Linked DNA regions of Homo sapiens: all the other regions are linked to region 1. Evidence: fine-mapped expression QTL. A gene starts in region 1. Each other region holds a variant in brackets. All regions are shown on one strand. Distances are between the middles of the regions. Region 1 holds the start of PPT1 (palmitoyl-protein thioesterase 1). Region 2 overlaps LOC105378669 (a long non-coding RNA gene). Region 3 overlaps CAP1 (cyclase associated actin cytoskeleton regulatory protein 1). Region 4 overlaps LOC105378669 (a long non-coding RNA gene).

Region 1 (5,000 bases):
TTCATTAAAGGCAGGAAACTTCATTGAGCGGGCTATATTCACAGAAAAATCCTGAAACTACTTCAATTTGTAAGTCTTAAGTTAAAATAAAATGCTTATACAATAAGCTTATTTTTCTTAAAACAAAACTGTATACTGTACTGTATAATGCTTTATGATTCTGCATTTTTTTTTCTTTGAGACAGAGTTTCACTCTTGTTGCCCAGGCTGGAGTGCAGTAGCTCAATCTTGGCTCACTGCACCCTCTGCCTCCTGGGTTCAAGTGATTCTCCTGTCTCAGCCTCCTGAGTAGCTGGGATTACAGGCACCCACCACCATGCCCGGCTAATTTTTTGTATTTTTAGTAGAGATGGGGTTTCATCATGTTGGCCAGGCTGGTCTCAAACTCCCAACCTCAGGTGATCCACCTGCCTCAGCCTCCCAAAGTGCGCCCAGTGGATTCTGCATTTTAATCGACTTTTCAACTAACAACTTACCTCTAGTCCCAATGGCATGGAATAGAAGAGATTACAGACCGTGGGTTTGTAATCGACTTTTCTTTTACAACATATTAAGGGCATTTTTCATGTCACTTTATGTAAATTTACCTCATTTTTCTTTTTTGAGAGAGACAGGGTCTCACTGTTGCCCAGGGCAACAGCGAGATCATAGCTCAGTGCAATGGCGAGATCATAGCTCAATGCAGCCTTGAACTCCTGGGCTCAAGTGATCCTCCCACCTTAGCCTCCCCAGTAGCTAGGATTACAGGCACATACCACCACCCCTGGCTAATTAAAAAAAAATTTTTTTTTTGTAGAGATGGGGTCTTGCTATGCTGCCTGGGCTGTACTCTCTTTTTATTTATTTTTTATTCTTATTTTTTGAGACAGAGTTTTGCTCTTGTTGCCCAGGCTGGAGTACAATGGTATGATCTCAGCTTACCGCAACCTCTGCCTCCCGGGTTCAAGAGATTCTCCTGCCTCAGCCTCCTGAGTAGCTGGGATTACAAGTATGCGCCACCACACCCGGCTAATTTTGTAATTTTAGTAGAGACGGGATTTCTCCATGTTGGTCAGGCTGGTCTCGAACTCGCTACCTTAGATGATCTGCCCACCTCAGCCTCCCAAAGTGCTGGGATTACAGGAGTGAGCCACCGCGCCCGGCCCTATACTCATTTTTTATAAAACTGGCCTCATATTATTCCATTGTATAGTGGATACACTCTAATTTCTTTATAAATTATTTAAACTATTTTTTGATGTTTTGTTGAAAAAAAACTTGAGCAGGGAACTGATATTATGAAGGTGGATTGAGGGATGAATGTGGCAATAGAGCATAAAATGAATTAAAGAGGAGAGAATGGAAAAGGAAATGGTTGATGAGAGACCCTTGAAATAATCCAGCTGAGATTAGGCCAGTTAGTGGCCATGGGTTTCCCCCTCACTCTTATGCATCCAACATATGCTTTCGTCCGTCTTGAAGTCCCGACATTTCTAGAAAACACAGTTGTCTTTCTCCTCTCTACCTTAGCTCATCTCAGTCCTTCTGAATTTCATCTTTGCTTGTTGAAATCCTACCTCTCCTTCAATATCCAGAACAAACCCCACACCCTGCCATGATTGGTCCTGGCTGGAAACCGTCCCTCCTTCTTTCTTCCTTCCTCTGTGCATGTTTCTTGCAAAGGCAGTACAGGGCAGTGGTGAAGAGCAACGACTTTGGAACCACCAATTTGCTATCTCTGTGACCTTGGGCACCTTACTCAGTGCCAATTCGCAGTGCCTCAGTGTCCTCACCTGTCAGGGGGAGAAGTGCATACAGCATTGTTATGAAGAGTGAATTAGTTAAAGGTTGTAAGAATAGTGCCTGATAGCATCTGATCAGCACTGAATATATGTTAGCAATTATTTTGATTCACCGCAGAGGGCGGTCTACGAGAGCGCAGAGCCCCACTCGGCCAGCGGGGTCTGGCGGGGGACCTGTCGCGCTGAAAGCTCCAGGGTAGGGCCGACGCCCATCAGGCTGGGCATCCGTTCGGGATGCGCAGGTTGCGATCTGCAACCGGCGGCGCCACGCCCAGGCGGGCGGAGCGCGGTTCCCGGAGTCTCGCGCCCGCGGTCATGTGACACAGCGAAGATGGCGTCGCCCGGCTGCCTGTGGCTCTTGGCTGTGGCTCTCCTGCCATGGACCTGCGCTTCTCGGGCGCTGCAGCATCTGGACCCGCCGGCGCCGCTGCCGTTGGTGATCTGGCATGGGATGGGTGAGTGAGTGAGAAATTTAAAAGGGTTTGGCGATTCTCTCTCTTCCTAGCCTGGGTTCGCATCTGCAAAATGCGGGTGTAGAGGGCGAGGACGTGGTCCCACAGCACGCGGCTGCCTCGACATTTTAGGATTTGAAGGATCTGCATTGGAAAGAGAGAAGGGGAAGGAGCCGTCCCCTTCACTGGAAAGAGAGAAGGGGAAGGAAAGAGAGAGCCGCGCACGGCGTTGAAGTTTTACATGCTGTCCTTGATTAATCCTTACAGTAGTGGCGTCAGGATGCAGCATCTCTCACTTGGTCAGGCTAGGTGAGCTGCGGCTGGCTATATGACTGGCGCATCTACCCTTTTATTTATTCCTTCACACATTGAACAGAGATTTGTTAGGCACCTACAGTTCATTTACAAATTGAGTAACCCTTATCTGAAATGCTTGGGACTGGGAAGCATTTCGGATTTTTTTTTTTTTAATATTTGCATATATACAAGAGATCTGGGGGGTGGGACCCAAGTGTAAACAGGAAATTTATTTATTTTTCATATACACCTTATACACATAGCTGGAAGGTAATTTTATGCAATATTTTAAATAATTTTGTGCAACCCATCACATGAGGTCAGGTGTGGAATTTTCCACTTGTGGCATCATGTCTGCGCTGAAAAACTTTCAGATTTTGGGTTTCCCATTTTCAGATTAGGATGCTCAACCTATATTCATTTAACACAGTTATTGAGCACCTACTAGGTGCTGAGGATACAGTAGGGAACTAAACAGACTAAATTCTTTGTTCTTTTGGAACCTACTCTCCAGTAGGAGAAGCAGATTATAAAGAAATTAACAAGTAAAACATAACATATCAAATGGTGATATGTGCAACAGAGAAAAATATAGTAGGGTGTAGGATAAAAACTGGAGGTGGGGGCTTGCACTTTTAATAAAGCAAAGTTGGGAAAGAATTCATTGAAAAAGTGACATCTGAGTACAAAACTGAGGTAGATGAGGACAGTTGCCATTTGGCTGTCTGGTAGAAGGAACAGTAAATGGGAAAGCCCTGATGTGGAAGTATGTCTGGTGTGTTCAAGGGACAGCATTCAGATCAGCGTGGCTGGAAATGAGTAAGCAAGGGGAAGAAGTTAGGAGTTTAGTTTGGAAGGGAGGGGCAGGTACAGAAGTTATTGGGCCTAGTAAGACTAATGCAGGGACTTTGGCTAGAGTGTCATGGGGAACTTTTTGAGCAGATGAGTGACATGATCTGACACATTTTTAAAGAATCACTTTAGTTGCTGTATTAAGAATAGATCGTAGGGCGTCATGGATGGTCACAGGGAGACAGGTTAGGAAACTATTGCAATAATTTAAACAAGAGATGATGACTTGGAACTGTAGAGTAACAGTAGAGGTGTTGAGAAGTGGTCAAAGTTTGGATAGATTTTGAAGGTGGATTGCTAACAGATCAGACTTGGAATAAGAGAGAAAGAAAGGAGCCAAAGATGACTCCACAGGTTTTGGCCTGAACAATTGGAAGGGTGAAGTTTTCATTTTACCAAGATGGGGAAGCCTGTAGGACAAGCTGACTTAGGGTGGGGGAAAGATCAAGAGTCTGCTTTTGGGCTTACTAAACTTGAGATCCTCATGAGACACCCAGGAGATGTTGTAGAGGCATTTGGAGTGTGGAGTCTAGGACAGAGATACGGGTTGGAGATTTAAGTAGGGAGTCTTCGGCATACAGCTAGTAGTTAAAGGCTAGGTGAGACCACCTAGGAAATGAGCGTACACAGAGGACTAAGCCCTGAGGCACTCCATTCCATTTGGAGGTGGAGGAAATGAGGAGAAACTAGCAAAGGAGGCTGTAACCAAATAGCCGGTGAAGTGGAGGGGTCAGGAAAGCGCAGTGTCCTTGAAGCCAAGTGAAGAAAATGTTTCAGGAAGAAGGGCATGATCAACTGCATCAAATGTTGATAGGTCATGATCAACTGTATCAAATGTTAATGGGTCAAGGAAGATAAAGGCTGACAACTGATTATTGGATTTAGCAATATAAAGATGATTAATCTTGACAAAAGCAGTTTTGGGAGAGTCGTGATAGTGAGATCTTTATTGGGATGGGTTACAGAAAAATATTCAGAGTAATTAGAGTCAGCAAATACAAACACTTGCAAGGTTCTCCAACAGGCCCTGGGGCTACTACAGTGGGGTCAAAAGAGGACACAGGGTAGGAGCTTTGTGTTTTCCCAGAGCTCACAGTCAGTTACAGGGGAGGCAGAGGCAGTTAAGTAACCTACAATTACAGCTCAGTGTGGAGAACGTTGTTTTCAGAGAAATAAAAGGAATAGACAATTCTCTAGGCAGTAGCCTTTTCTTGTTCTAAAATTGGTGCTTAAGCTTTCTCGCAGGTTGAAAATGGAATAAGTAAGTTCAAAATGGGAAATGATCTCAGTCCACTTCTACTCAGTAGCCAGTTTGCTTCCTGTTCCTAGTTCTAGTTCCCTGAAATAGAAGAAACAAGTCTGGGGCTAGGACAAGATGAAGAGGCTCCTGAAGTGCAAATTTAAGGAGGCACTCACTCTCAAATTCAGGGTCAACACTTACATAAACCTGAGAATGAGTGCCTCCTTAAATTTTGTGCCCTAGAGCGGGGGTCCCAAACTCCCTGGGTCTGTGACCTGTTAGGAACTAGCCACACAGCAGGAGGTGAGTGAGCCTGCAGCCTTACCACCATGAGCTCTACCTCCTGTCAGATCAGCAGTGGCATTAGATTCTCAAAGA
Region 2 (5,205 bases), 71 kb after region 1:
AAAAAGGATTAAAAAGTATCCATTGGATTTTAAGACATGGTGGCCTTTGGCGATATTTTCAGAAGCATTTTTTGCAGACTGGTAGTAGGCAGAGACTAGATAAAGTGTAATGGGAAGTGGGAGGTGAGAAAAGGGGGAGAGCAGTGTAGGTTACGCTTAAAAATTTTCCTCTGAGAGTGGACAAACAAAAGCAGTTGAAGGGAAACTTATTAACCCAGCTCTTCAAGCTAAATATTGAAGAGTTGAATTTGATTCGACTCTTCTATTCCTCTTATGTCCCGTTTCCAATATATGAGCAAAGACCATTGGCTCTAACTTCAAAATATATTCTGAATCTCTCTACTTACTCATTTTCTTCACTGCTACCTACTCCAAGCTACCATCATCTCTTGCCTGGACTATCTTAAGAGCCTCTCAATTTATCTAATTGATCTATCTCTGCCATTTGTTTCCTACATATCAAATATATGAATTAACGAGGCAACTTATTTGCCTCCTATACACATCCTACATACAATGGTGGGAAAGGCTAGAGTTGCTCTACAGTTGCTCCCATGGCTAGAGTTGCTCTAGAGTTGCTCCCCTTCAAAACAAGGGAAAATGGGAGGCATACAGCAGAGACAACTCTGAAATCCAACTGATGTAGGTTGATTAGAGCTTAGTCCAATTGCCGGAGAGTTGTTCATTGTGGTTTCAGCTCCAATATCTGGGCTCTTGGTTACACTCTGAATCATCCTTCCTTTTCTATAAGAAAATTGAGTTTGTATCTGAGTAGCCTTCTCAGCCTGATTCCTCCCTATAAAAGGCATCTTTCCATTTTGTACTGTCTATGTCCCCATTAGTCCTAGCTGATAGATGCTTCTGCCAGAGCAATTCTCTTAGAAGCTTTGTGGGTTCCTTATGCATGAATTTATTATCCACTCCAACAAAAGCTACTCTCATAAATCTCTTTGAGATAAGCACTTCCTTCCCTTGAGAGACTGCTCCAAAATGTCCTTAAGATCTTTGGAGAGACTTTTTTTTCTATCAGATGGATTCTATAAAGCATCCTATAAAGCATTCTATAAAGGTCTTAACCTTTAACTTCTTTTTTAGATAATATTTTCCTGACAGTGTCTTGGATTTTACTTCTGCCCAGAGCCATTTCTTAACTTTAGAATCATTTACCATCTGGAGAGGCTGACAGTGAAAACAGTTTTATTTTCAAGCCAAGCCAAGTAAGTCCTGGTCCTAGATATAGATATGTGTGTGTGTGTGTGTGTGTATATATATATATATATATACACACACATATATATACACACATATATATACACATATATATACACATATATATATACACACACATATATATCAGCTTTATTGAGATATAATCCACATACCATACAAGTCTCCCATTTAAAACATACAATTCGATGTTTTTAGTATATTCACAGAGTTGTACAACTTTTACCATGATCAATCTTAGAACATTTTTATCACCCCAAAAAGGGACCTGGTACCCATTAATGGTCATACTCTGTCCCCCCTCACCCCTGCCACCTCTGTCTTAGTCTGTTTGTGCTGCTACAACAAAATACATGAGACTGAATAATTTATAAATAGTAGACATTTCTCACAGTTCTAGAGGCTTGGAAGTCCAAGATCAAAGCACTGGTGTTTGGCATCAGGTGAGGACCTTCTCACATGGCAGAAGAGATGGAACCCACCAACTCAAGCCCTTTTATAAGGGCCTTAATGCCATCCATGAGGGCTCGGCCCTTATTAGTCATCTCCTAAAGGCCCCACCTCTTAATACTATTACATTGGTGATTCAGTATCAACATATGAATCTTGGGGACACATTCAGAACACAGCACCCCACAACTCTCCCTGCCCAACCATAGGCAATCACTAATCTACTTGTCTCTATAGATTTGCCTATTCTGGGCATTTCATATGTTAAATAAAATGTATGGTCAGGCACAGTGGCTCACCTACCCAGCTAATTTTTTAAATTATCTGTAGAGATGAGGTCTTACTATGTTGCCCCGGGTGGTCTTGGGCTCAAGCAATCCTCCCTCCTCAGCCTCTCAAAGTGGTAGGATTACAGGTGTGAGCCACTGCACCCAGTCTTATAAATTGATTTTTTTTTTTTTT[A/TA]AAAAAAGACAACTCAACCATCTGCAACAATAGGGGCTATGGTTCATCCCCCTAACCTCACTCATTCAGGTTTCTCCTCAGGAAGAGAGGCCTGTGAGAGCTGTAGAGGAACTTCTCTCCAATGATGTGGGGCAGGTGGATCTTGGCAGTGCAAGGGATGGGCTATGTGACCAAGGGGTGGACTGTGTGCACAATGTCTTACATCCACCTTCACAAAGAGAATCTGCTGTGAGGTGTAGAGGTAACTGCCGTACCTCTGGGATTTGCCACAGCATTCTTGCCAAGGCACGCTTTCCCTGGATTCATCCCAGCCAATGACCGAGCTCCAGGGCATACTACAGCTGGGCCATTTCTGCCTTATGTGGGACTCCTTCACTGGGCAATCAGCCTGGCCAAGAGTTTTTTCAGAGCTGCACTAACACTCGGAGCCTCTTCCTACCCAATCCTCCTTCTTTCCTTCTCTCCTCTCACGGGTGTCAGTCCTGCACCATGGCCTGAAGATTCTCCCTGTCTACTCCTGCTGCTTCTTATCTTTTCACTGCCATTTTCCACTTGAACTTTTTTCTTTTCTTTTTTTAGAGGCAGAGCCTTACTCTGTCACCCAGGCTGGAGTGCAGTGGCTCAATTATATCTCATTGTAACCTCGAACTCCTGGGCTCAAGCCGCCTCCCGTCCTCAGCCTCAATCTCTTGAGTAACTATCTGCCTTGAACTTGTGAGAGGACTCAAATTTATGCAGCTTTTAGCTGTTTCTAAGAAAAAGTTTGGTATGGGTGCTACCATAATGAAAGCCTAAAATGTGGAATTGGCTTTGAAACCACCTGGCTGACTGAGGCTGGAAGGACATTGAGGTGTGGCATGGTGGCTCACGCCTGTAATCCCAGCACTTTGGGAGGCTGAGACAGGTGGATCACCTGAGGTCAGGAGTTCAAGACCACCCTGGCCAATATGATGAAACCCTGTCTCTACTGAAAATAAAAAAATTAGCCGGGCGTGGTGGCAGGCACCTGTAATCCCAGCTACTCAGGAGGCTGAGACACGAGAATTGCTTGAACCTGGGGGACAGAGGTTGCAGTGAGCTGAGACTGCACCACTGCACTCCAGCCTGGGCAACAGAGTGAGACTCCATCTCAATAAATAAATTAATTAATTAAAATTTACAGGAGGCCATTGATTTGGACTAGGCTCCTGCACTCAGCCTAACAGACCAAACCAATGGAGTTTAACTACAGTGACTGAGCTGGGATTATAGGCATGCACCACCACACCCAGCTAATTTTTGTATTTTTAGTAGCGATGGGGGTTTCACCATGCTAGCCAGGCTGGTCTTGAACTCCTCACCTCAGGCGTTCCACCTGCCTTGGCCTCCCAAAGTGCTGGGATTACAGGCATGAGCCACTGCACCCAGCCTATTTTCTACATGATTTTGCAATGGCTTTCCAGCTTAAAATTTAGAGTCAATTTGTTCATATAAAGAGGATATCAAGTACCAATATCCTAAAATATTGACAAACTATTAAGTGTAAAACTCCCCCAAATTCAGTTTAATATGAAACATACTACATGTATCATAGAATTTTCAAATATCTCATGTCACATTAATAAAGAAAGGAAAAATTGGGTTACTGTTGCCAAAGATGTCACAGATAGTATAGAATTCTGACAGACAGGTCCAAGACAGGGAAGCAGTTTAAAACAAAACAAAACAAACAAACAAAACAGGTTTGACTTAATAGGTTATACTTAGAAAATGTTAGCCAATATTAGAGTACATATATTTTTGTCAAGAATTTCCATGGAGCTTTTATAAATATTGACCATGCTCCAGGTTACAAAACGAGTCTCAAACACCAAAGAATCAGTATACTTACCGCATTGGGTGTCTCATTATAACTGGAGGACAGTAAGAACAGTAACAGCAACACCTTAAAATACCCTGTATGTTGGAAAAACTTTAAATATAGTTACTGCTAAACTGATCAAAGAAGACACCATACAAGAAAGTATCAGAAAATACTTAGAACTGAATGATTTTAAGAGTGCTATATTGAAATTTATAGGATGTACTTAAGGAGAAATGCATAGCCTTAAGTGCTTATATTAGAAAAAAAGATAGGCTGGAATTTAAAGAGCTAAGCTTTAAAGTCAAGATGTTAGACAAAAATCAACAAAGAAAGCAGAAGTGGCCAGGCATAGTGGCTCACACCTGTAATCTCACCACTTTGGAGGCCAAGGCAGGAGAACTGCTTGAGGCCAGGAGTTCGAGACCAGCCTGGGCAGCATAGCGAGACCCCCAATCTCTAGAAAAAAATTTAAAAATTAGCCAGGCATGGTGTCTCAGTCTTTGCTACTTAGGAGACTGAAGCAAGAGGATCACTTGAGCCCAGGAGATCAAGTCTGAAGCGAGCCGTCATCACGTCACTGCACTCTAGCCTGGCAACAGAGCAAGACCCCATCTCTAAATAAATAAATAAAACAAAAAAAAAAAAAAAGGAAAGAAAGTAGAAGTAATGAGATAATAAAAATGAGAGGAGAAAAAACAACAGGAGAAACTAAGCAGAAAACAAATATATGTGATAAAAGAGATTGACATAACCAAATGTTGGTTCTTTGAGAAAAGTAATAAAATAGACAAACCGCTGGTGAAATGATGAAGAAAAGTACAAAAAAAAAAGAAGTAAAAAAGAGGACATACTACAAGTACAGCAGACACTGATGATATACATATTTAAAGACTGTCTACCGCAGCCTGCCCTCTGGCCAACACCATTCACGTCCATTCCATGTGCAAAATATACTCACTCTCCTCCCAGGACCCCCAAAGTCTCATCCCACATGGTATCAGCTTGAAGTTCACAGTCTCATTACCTAAATGAGGTCTAGCTGCAGATGAAGCTCTTCAGGCGTACTTCCTTGAGTGTGGGTTCCTCTTGATATGAAGACCTGTGAAATACAGTCAAGTCATCTGTAACACAAACACAACATCCAATAGTCATATGAGGATAGGAAAACTGCAATAAATGCTCCCATTCAAAAGGGATGAACAGGAGGCACATAACAGTCAGTG
Region 3 (5,205 bases), 39 kb after region 1:
AAGAAGTTCCCAAGCATGGTTACTGTTTATAATTCGGTGAGCTAGCAGGAAGGTTTTTGGGTCCCAAAAATAGAGGTAGAATGTATATGTGAGTGTGGGGTGGGGGTGGGGGGTGGTGGTGATGACGTAGGAGGCATAAAGGAAGGTGGGAGGAAAGGCACCTGTCATTGCCTACTTCATATTCTTGCTGTGGGTTAAGTGTGAAAATAACCCACATTAGCATAACTAATAACTATCAAGCATAGTTTTATAAATGCTAAGTCATGATAATGACTCCTTTAAATAAGCCACTGTAGGTTTGATTATGTAATATGTTGGGATCAAACTGGTGCATATTCTTCACTACAAAGATGAACAGAACCATATTTTATGTACCAAGCAAGCTTTCTGTATAAATACGTGATAAAAGCAAGGGGCCTAGAAAAAAATGAGGAATCGTTTCTGTGGCTAGACTGAACTCCTCAGTACAGGCAAAAGAGAAAGAACATGTGTAATGCCCCAAACCAAGAGGAACTTCTCAAGGAGCTCTTAAACCAAGGATGAGGACCTTGGCTGACTGAAGAAAGCTGTTAGTCCTTAAAAGAAGGGGAAAAAGGCAAAACATCCTTACATGTTTCTGCACGTCTCCCCCAATCTCTTTACTGATCTTCAAGTACTCTGCCACAGGACCAGCAAGCAGCGAGTCAAATGCCTGCACATATGGAGCTGCTCCTGCTAAAGACAAACACACCACAAAGAATCAGCCATGCATCAGAAGGAGGCTTCTTTAAAACGTGCTTCTACATGAAAGTGGGGAGGCAAGGTAATACAGTCAACAGGATACAGAACAGGAGTAAGGAAACCTGGGTTCCAGGTCCAGTATCACCACTAACTGGTTGTGTGACCCTGACTAAATTCCTTTTCCTCTCTGAGCTTAATTTTCTTTATCTATAAAATGAAAATAAACAAAATGATCCTCCAAGGTTTTTTTTAGTGCTAACATTCTATGTTCCAACTGGTGCATGTGCAAAATGTCCAATTTGCCAATTGTTTGGAGAGAGGAATTTTATTATCACTTGTCATTTGACTTACATTGGAGTCATTCTGCTAAAGAAAGAGCAGGAAATATTGCACAAGCAGGAAGTTCTTGTGTTAAAATAACTTAACCACAGGCCTCCCTGTACAAGTCATTTCCTCTCTTATCTGTTCACAGCAATACAAATTACAAAAGGTAAACTTTCTAGATTAAGTTTTGGGAAGTTAGCGCCAAAGGAGAGAATAATAGAAAATTTTCAGGCCAAGACGCTCAAAGAAAGCATTCTGCTGGGCTGTGGACTGCTTACCTTTTGAAGGACTGTCTGCATACCCACGGTGCATGTCAGAGGTATGAGATACTGCCTCCAGGCGGCCCACTGCCCTCTCCAATCTTTCTACCAGATTTTGCATGTCAGCCATAATGGACCACCTGCTGAAACAGATCAAATGTCATTTGTTATTTAAATATTAAATAGCACCTACAGAGAAAAAAACAGAAAATTCCTGGTCATCCCCAGGTGGATGAAGAGGATGCCAATTCTCAGGAACAGAATAATTTAATAAAATTAGATATCATCTGCAAAATGGAACAATACAAAAATATCAGATAAAAAAGTAGCATATTTACAAAATCAAAAGACCTCATTAAGCAAGAGAACTGCTCAGGAAAAGGTGTTCACTAAAGTAAATGCTTACTCATTCAAATACTCAATATTTACTATGATACTGTGTGTAGAAAGTTAGAATTTGCAAAGGATAGTCACATACATTATCTCAGTTTGAGCCTCCCGACAACTATTCAGGAATAGAAGGATGATTACTACACGCTTAGAGATAGAAAACTTAGTTTCAGTGAAGCTAAATGACTTGTCTAGTCACACGGCCAGTGAATAGAGAAGCCAGTACTCCATCATATCCTTATCTGATCCTTCTGGTTCTAAGTTCAGTGTGTTTTTTTCCTACAACATCCTGCTGCCTGCATGTGAAATATCCCAAACCAAGATGAATAGGATGTTTACTCTTCCCTCAATAATTTTTTTTTTTTCAGACAAAGTCTTACAATGTCACCCAGGCTGGAGTGCAGTGGCAGGATCTCAGCTCACTGCAAGCTCCACCCTGTTGGGTTCAAGGGATTCTCCTGCCTCCCAAGTAGCTAGGGTTATAGGTGTGCGCCACCATGCCCAGCTAATTTTTTGTAGTTTTAGTAGCGACAGGGTTTCACTGTGTTGGCTAGGATGGTCTTGAACTCTTGACCTCAAGTAATCCACCCGCCTTGGCCTCCCAAAGTGCTAGGATTACAGGCGTGAGCCACTGTGCCCGGCCTGCCCTCAGTAATTTATAGTCTAATGGGGAGACTTAACATATGCACTAACAACTATGAAACAAATAGAAAAAAATGTTAAGGTGACATAAGAAAGTTGCTGATAGAGAGGCATGAGATTTCAAAGAGGGGAGTAATATATCAGC[T/A]GGAAGGATCAGATAAGGATATGATGGAGAAGCTGCCATTTGAGCCAGCCTTCAAATGAAGATGAGAAAGATCTGGACATGCAGTAGGGAAGGACACTAGACACATCCAAAAGAATTTGTTATAGATCTTTCACAAGTACTATCTTATCTGAAATAGCCTAATTCAATGTCTAATATCCCAAAGAAAGTAAGCTCCAACAGAGAAAGGACCTTATATAGCTTGTTCCTTACTGTATACTCTACCATCTAGACTACTACCTGGCAGGTAGTAGATGTTCAATAAATATTTATGAAGTTATAAACCTCACAAATAGCATTCCAAAACTCCAGAGGGATAAGGGTGCTAAAAGTTGCCCATAAGTCACACATAAGTGTAAAATATGATCAATGCACCTCTACATAAAGTATTTGAGACCCTAAGTGATCTCATAAAAACCAGTCAGTGAAATTTCAATCCAAGCTTTGACTTGGAAAGATTCCATTTCACAAAAGCGTCAATTCAGGCAACTGAATTCAGTTCAGGTAACTGAAGCTGAATGAACTCAACTCCCTTGAAGCTGCCTAAAATGACAACAGCAATTATGATTCCCCCAAAGATGACAGCATGCCAGAATTATCTCAATTTAACACATTGTCCTCCCTGTGGAAGAGATAAGCAGCTCACAAGATAAAGTAAGGAAGACAATATAGTCTCTGTCCATTCTCTGTGTACAGGCTCTGGTCTCTGTGGGCCCAATCACTTGTCAGAGAGTGTTGTTTAAAAGAGAAGCAAAGAAAAAAAATGAGAATGAGAACCAAACAAACCTTTCCATTCCTTGGCCTGCAGCAGCAGCAGAAGCCTCCAGGTCTATGTCCTACTCTCAAATAGAGCAGACCATAAGCAGTCAACATACTTTCCCTAATGTTATGACACTATCAACTGATATCTGAATTCCTGCCCTGTTCCATTATGCATACTGATCAAGAGACAGACTCACATATATATACAATCCACCACACTGTAAGTCCAGGGGAAAAGGCAAGGAACGCAATAAACTCCTAAGCTACCTTCCATGAACAGATACCACTCAGTTCTGTTATTAAAACATGTTCCTTCATACATGGATGTTTCAGGTTGAGACCACTGTTAACATGGAGACACAGTACATGTATTGCTAGAGGCTGCCAGAGTTTGTGAACATTTACCAATCTTAAATGCTTAATAATAGAGCTTCATGGGACTTTGGCTCCCTTTTTCCATATTTCATTTGTATTTATAGGCTTTCACTGCTAAACAAGCTAAAGTTCCGCTGTCTGACTTAAGCAGAATGAAAAAGGACAATACAGCTACCATTTATAGCTAATCTCATTCTACCATTAACCAAATACAAAAGAACAGAAACTGTTTTTTTTGCTCTTGGTGGGAGTAAGATGAGATTTGAGATGTTATGGAAAATAATGTCCAGAATTTAAGTATGACATTGTATGTGTGTGTAGAGAATGAGATTCAGTTGTGTGAAAGACACACCTTTTCTTATTCTCTATACACACGTACATTCTTCCGGTGGTCATGTACACTCCTAAAGCCTCTGACTACCCTTGTTGTAGTAACACCCAGCCTATTTGCGAGGTGGTACCACCATAACCACCTATAGACTAAAGACTACCAGAGCAGCATATCCATCTAGCTCAGGCCATTCATCTGGGATTAAATTTTAGATTCAGGCCAAGTACTGTGGCTCACAACTACAATCCCAGCACTCTGGAATGCCAAGATGGGAGGAAGTGTTTGAGCTCAGGAGTCCACGACCAGCCTGGACAACATGGCAAAATTCCATCTCTACAGAAAATAAAAAAATTAGCCGGGCATGATGGTACACACCTGTAGTCCCAGCTACCCAGGAGGCTGAGGTGTGAGGATTACCTGAGCCCAGGAGGTCGAGGATGCAATGAGTAGTGATTGTACCATGCACTCCAGCCTGGGTGACAGAGTGAGACCCTGTCTCCAAAAAAAAAAAAATCCAGCTTTCACCTAGACATCGCTACCTGGATGTCCCAAAGGCAACCTGAAATGTCCAAAAGCAGAAATCATATTCCCTAACATTGCTCCAGCACTGCTATCAATCACCTGATTGATCAAGTCAGTAACTGGAAACTGTTGGGCAGTATTATATAGTGGATAAGAGTGTTCTTTAGAGAAATCAGAGAGATTGGAGGTTTGAATAACAATATGCAGTGGCTTTGTGACTATAAGCAGTTATCAAACTTTCTGAGACTCAATTTCCTTATCTTTATAATGAAGACAATAATAGCACAAAAATCCAAAGGGCTTCAGTGAGAATAAATGAAGGAATCCATGTAGAAGTGCTTGGCACAGTCCTGGAAAATAGTAAGGATTCCATAAACTCCCCCACAACATCTTATCAGTCATCAAAATCCATAGGCTCTATTTAGTGTATCTCATGAATAGATGCCTCTTGCCTCCATCCTGACTGATAAGAGTTAGGATACTGGCTGGGCACAGTGGCTCACTCCTCTAATCCCAGCACTTTGGGAGGCCAAGACAGGAGGGTTGCTTGAGGTCAGGAGTTCAAGACTAGCCGGGGCAACATAGGGAGACCTTGTCTCTACAAAAATAATTTAAAATTTTTCCAAGCATGGTGGTGTACAGCTGTGGTCCCAGCTACCTGGGAGACTGAGGTGGGAGGATGGCTTAGGCCCAGAAGGTAGAGGCTTCAGTAAGCC
Region 4 (5,205 bases), 82 kb after region 1:
CTTCATCCCAGGTTCAAGTGATTCTCTTGCCTCAGCCTCCCCAGTAGCTGGGATTACAGGTGCACACCACCATGCTCAGCTAATTTTTGTGTTTTCTTTTTGTTTTTTTTTTTTTGAGACAGAGTCTCACTCTGTCACCCAGGCTAGAGTGCAGTGGTGTGATCTCAGCTTACTGCAACCTCCACCTCCTGGGTTCAAGTGAGTCTCCTGCCTCAGCCTCCCAAAGTGCTGGGATTACAGGCATGAACCACTGAGCCCGGCTGGGTGTGATTGTGCTGTAATACAACTTGATTTATAGAAACTGGAGGCAGGCCAGATTTGATCTAGGGGGCCATAGCTTCCTGGTCCCTGACCTAGGAAAGAAAAGGAAGTCCTGCATATCAACCCCAATAATAGAGCAGAAAAATAGAGCAACCCCAATTACAAAAAAGAAAAAAAATGGAAAGATTTATGAGTAGGCAATACACAGGAGAGGAAATGCAGAAGGATAGTAAGCAAGTGATGAGATGCTTAAATGCAATTACAATCAGAAAAATGTAAATTAATAATCTAATCTGATAGCAAAAATTAGAGATATGACAGTGATATTTGTTGGGGAAAGAGGAACTCCATGGTGGACATGAAGACTGGTGCAACCACTTTAGAGGGCAGCATGGTGGTACATAGTCAAATAGTGTGTCTGTATACTTAATGATCAAGCAAATCGGCTTCCGAGTCAGTATCTCAATGAAATTCCTACCCAAGTCCATAAAAGTTCATGAACTAGAATCCTGTAATCCCAGCACTTTGGGAGGCTGAGGCAGATGGATGACCTGAGGTCAGGAGTTTGAGACGAGCCTGGCCAACATGGTGAAACCCCATCTCTACTAAAAGTACAAAATTAGCCAGGCTTGGTGGCATGCACATGTAATCCCAGCTATTCGGGAGGCTAAGACAGGAGAATCACTTGAACCCAGGAGGCAGAGGTTGCAGTGAGCCAAGATCATGCCATTGCACTCCAGCCTGGGCAGAAAAGAGCAAAATTCCATCTAAAAAAAAAAGAAAGAAAGAAAGAAAGAAAAGAACTAGAATCTTCATTGAAGCATCATTTGTGTTTTGGAGGAGCAATAATTGTGGAAACAATTTGGATTTTCATCACTTAGAGAATAAATCTATAAAATGTGTTGAAGGTACACCATGAAGTACTATACAGCAATTGGAACCAATGAATTAGATGTACACTTAACAACATGGATAGATCTTGAACTTAAAAACAGTGCTGATTTTAAAAAGTGATAACAGAATACATAATAAACACAAGTCACTTTATTTATTAAATTTAAATATTTATTAAATATTAAATTTAAAATATTTGCACGTAAAATATGTTTTGCAAGACACAAATACCAAGATACATATTAAACACATTATAGTGGTTGTCTATCGGGAGAGAAAGGAAGTGGGCTATGGAATGAAAGGGAATATGTGTGTGTGTTTGTGCGTGCACGTGTGCACGCGTGTGTGTGTGTACATATATACACACATACACATAAGAAATTTAACAGGTTTATTTTTCATACAAAGCTGGTTTGTGAATTAAAACAATTAATTTGTTTTCTTTTCCTCATGGCTTGGTTTCAGTTATTTTCTGTATGTGCATGTGTGTGTGTGTATATATATATATTCCCTTCATTCCATAGCCCAATTCTCATATATACACATATATGAGACAGGGGGAGAAGTGGAAGAAGAATTGCATGGACCAATGACAGTAATGTGCCATGAAATGCAGAGAACAATTAACCACATCTGAGGTTAAAATTAAAACAACATATAATATAAAAAGCCAGATAATACGAATTTTTTTTGAAGGAGTAAAGAAAGCAACTTCATAGGGAGATAAACCTCAGCAGAGCTATGAAACCCTCCTCAATTCTTCGGACTTGGGACTGGCCATCCCCACAGGCTTACATGTAAGAGCGTGCTGAGTAGCATCTGAGTCAGTATGAGAAACATCTGAATAACAATGTGTAATGCCCGCTTGAGGTTACCAAGGTTTGAATCAGTATACTCTAAATTCTGAATGTATATGGATGATGACTAAATAAGCGCAGGTCATATCTGAATCAGCCTACCCAGTCCATAGTATCCAATATACATAGCATGATTCCCTAAAAATGTTATTATATATTAGTATATGCATACCAAAAAAAGGTGGAGGACTTTGCTATAAACTATTGACAGAGTTGTTGGTGAGAAATGTGTGGCAGAGACTGGCCAAAAGTTCAACAAATCTGTTTCCTCTTCCGCCTGGCCACTCATCAGCTTACATTTCTCAGTCTCTCTTGCAGATAACTATGGCCGTGTGCCTGAGATCTGGCCAATGGAATCGTGGACAGTTCTCCATGCTCTTTCTCCTTCTGTGGCAACTCTGAATGTCGTGTGTTCAAGATGAAGACAGAAGATAGAATGACCTTGGGTCTCTGAATCATTGCTTGGAGAAGAGCAATTT[A/G]CTGATCAGTGGTGTGAAAATAAGTAATTCAAAATCTAAGCTATTGGGCCAGGTGCAGTGGCTCACGCCTGTAACCCCAGCACTTTGGGAAACCAAGGCAGGTGGATCATTTGAGGTCAGGAGTTCGAGACCAGCCTGGCCAACAGGGTGAAACCCCGTCGCTACTAAAAATACAAAAAATTAGCCGGGCATGGTGGCATACGCCTGTGGCCCCAGCTACTTGGGAGGCTAGGGCACGAGAAACACTTAAGCCCAGGAGGCGGAAGTTGCAGTGAGCCAAGACTGCACCACTGCATGCTAGCCTGGGCAAGAGAGCAAGACTCTGCCTCAAAAAAAAAAAAAAAAAGAAAAAAATCTAAGCTGTTGGAACATTAAATTATTTTGAGCTTTAAAGAAATGTGTTTATGAGACTTGAGTCATGTGACAGGCAGCTGTAACCTAGGAAACTGTAAACATTTTTTCTCTGATTATAGATTAGCCTCCTTCCTTATCTACATAATTTTGTAAAATGTTGTAAATGACTAAAGGGTACTTCCCTTTAGTCCCACTTCACTGCTGATCTTCATTGCAGATTAACTTCCTTCCTACCTCTCTCACACAAAGCCTTCATGACTGTTACATTATATACTCTTTTAAATTAGAAAATAAATGAAACCAAGCCACAAGGAAAAGAAAACAAATTAACTAATTGAATTGTTTTAATTCATAAACCAGCTTTGTATAAGAAATAATCCTGTTAAATTTCTTTGTTTTCTTCCTTTATAAACAAGACCTTAACTTTTGACATCAGAGCACGGACCCCATTTCACTGACCCCATTTTCACGGAATAAACGCCTTAAAAAAATTTTTTTAATAGAAACAGAGTCTCACTTTGATGCCCAGTCTAGTCTTGAACTCCTGGCTTTAAGCAATTCTCCTTCTTGGTCTGCCAAAGTGCTGGAATTACTGGTGTGAGCCACTGTGCCCAGCCTGAATAAACTCTTTAAAAATGGGTGCTGATCCTTTTGATTCTTTCATGTTGATAGGGGCAAAATTCTGTTTTAGATTTCACTGGTAAAAGATAAAATCTTATCTTATTAGGCATTTGAGATGTTAGGATTGATCTGTTAAACTGCTAGCATTACATTAATCCCTACAATAGGGTTATAGGAAACTGCAACTTTCTACATTTTACATTTAGATACTGTTTGCATTTTGCAGAGCTTTACATTGCATATTTATAATCAGCATTGTATGCAATATAGATTTTTAAAAATTATGTTTCAAAATTTATAGCCAGCTTTTTCTCCTTGTCCTCTGAGTAATTCTTTTGCTTAACATTTTGGTGGAAAATGCAAAGCTGGGTGGTGTTACCAAAACGCTTGTTGCCCAAGGTCTATAAATATAGAAATCAGTTTGCTATCATTTCTGGGTTTTTTAATTGAAATATAACTCACATACTATAAAATTCACCCTTTTCAGCGTACAATTCAGTGGTTTTTAGTATATTTACAAGGTTGTGCAAATATCACCACTATCAAATTCCAGAAATTTTTCATTACCCCAAAAAGAAGCTCCATACCCATTAGCAGTCATTCCCTGTTCCTCTCACCCCACAAGCACTGATCTACTTTCTGTCTCTATGAGTTAGCCTACTCTGTACATTTCATACAAGTGGAATCATTAAAAGGTGGCCTTTCATGTTTGGCTTCTTTCACTAAGCATAATGTCTTCAAGGTTCGTCCATGGTGCAGCATATATCAGTACTCTCTTTTTGGCTGTATAATATTTTATTTGTGAATATACCACATTTTGTTTATCCATTTATCAGTTGATAGACATTTGGGTTGTTTTATGAATAATGCTGCTATGAACTTTTTTTAACGTAATTTTTAATTTTCTTTGAGACAGAGTCTTGCTTTGCTGCCCAGGCTGGAGTGCAGTGGTGCAATCTTGGCTCACTGTAACCTCCACCTCCCAGGCTCATGTGATTCTCATGCCTCAGCCTCCTGAGTAACTGAGATTAAAGGCTTGCACCAGCACGCCTGGCTAATTTTTGTAGTTTTAGTAGAGACAGGGTTTCGCCATGTTGGCCAGGCTGGTTTGAACTCCTGGGCCTATGTTATCTGCATACCTCTGCCTCCTAAAGTGCTAGAATTACAGGGGTGAGCCACTGCACCCAACCTGCTATGAACATTCTTTTTTTTTTTTTTTTTTTTTGAGATGGAATCTCGCTGTTGCCCAGGCTGCAGTGCAGTGGCACAATCTTGGCTCACTGCAACCTCCCTCTCCCAGGTTCCAGCAATTCTCCTGCCTCAGTCTCCCAAGTAGCTGGGATTACAGGCACATACCACCATACCTGGCTAATTTTTGAATTTTTAGTAGAGACGGGGTTTCACCATGTTGGCCGGGCTTGTCTTGAACTCCTGACCTCAGGTGATCCGCCCTCCTCGGCCTGTCAAAGTGCTGGGATTACAGGCGTGAGCCACTACACGGGACCTGAACATTCTTAACAAGACTTTTTTTTTTTTTTTTTAAATGATCGTAGGCCAGGCGCGGTGGCTCAGGCCTGTAATCCCAGCACTTTGGGAGGCCAAGGCGGGTGGATGACGAGGCCAGGAGATCGAGACCATCCTGACTAACACAGTGAAACCTCGTCTCTACTAAAAATGCAAAAAATGAGTCGGGCGTGGTGGCGGGCGCCTGTAGTCCCAGCTACTCGAGAGGCTGAGGC

The links.
Region 2: its variant is fine-mapped to the expression of PPT1 in whole blood (INTERVAL, PIP above 0.99).
Region 3: its variant is fine-mapped to the expression of PPT1 in whole blood (INTERVAL, PIP 0.97).
Region 4: its variant is fine-mapped to the expression of PPT1 in whole blood (INTERVAL, PIP above 0.99).

What each region holds. Positions count from the first base shown.
Region 1 is chr1:40,094,351-40,099,350 of GRCh38, reverse strand. PPT1 (palmitoyl-protein thioesterase 1) reads left to right here and starts at 2,099. Exons shown (of 9, transcript NM_000310.4): 1 at 2,099-2,236. The coding sequence starts at 2,113. RefSeq lists an enhancer at 2,235-2,364.
Region 2 is chr1:40,023,578-40,028,782 of GRCh38, reverse strand. The region is part of intron 2 of LOC105378669 (a long non-coding RNA gene); the gene reads left to right. Among named protein-coding and RNA genes, the nearest start is that of CAP1, 15 kb to the left of the region's middle. The variant A/TA (reference allele first, on the strand shown) is at 2,140.
Region 3 is chr1:40,055,576-40,060,780 of GRCh38, reverse strand. It overlaps CAP1 (cyclase associated actin cytoskeleton regulatory protein 1), which reads right to left. Exons shown (of 13, transcript NM_006367.4): 2 at 1,323-1,444; 3 at 611-714. The coding sequence starts at 1,434. Among named protein-coding and RNA genes, the nearest start is that of CAP1, 17 kb to the right of the region's middle. RefSeq lists enhancers at 1,457-1,506, 1,112-1,873. The variant T/A (reference allele first, on the strand shown) is at 2,482.
Region 4 is chr1:40,012,183-40,017,387 of GRCh38, reverse strand. LOC105378669 (a long non-coding RNA gene) reads left to right here. Exons shown (of 3, transcript XR_001738013.3): 3 at 2,319-3,483. Among named protein-coding and RNA genes, the nearest start is that of CAP1, 26 kb to the left of the region's middle. RefSeq lists a silencer at 1,914-1,963. The variant A/G (reference allele first, on the strand shown) is at 2,492.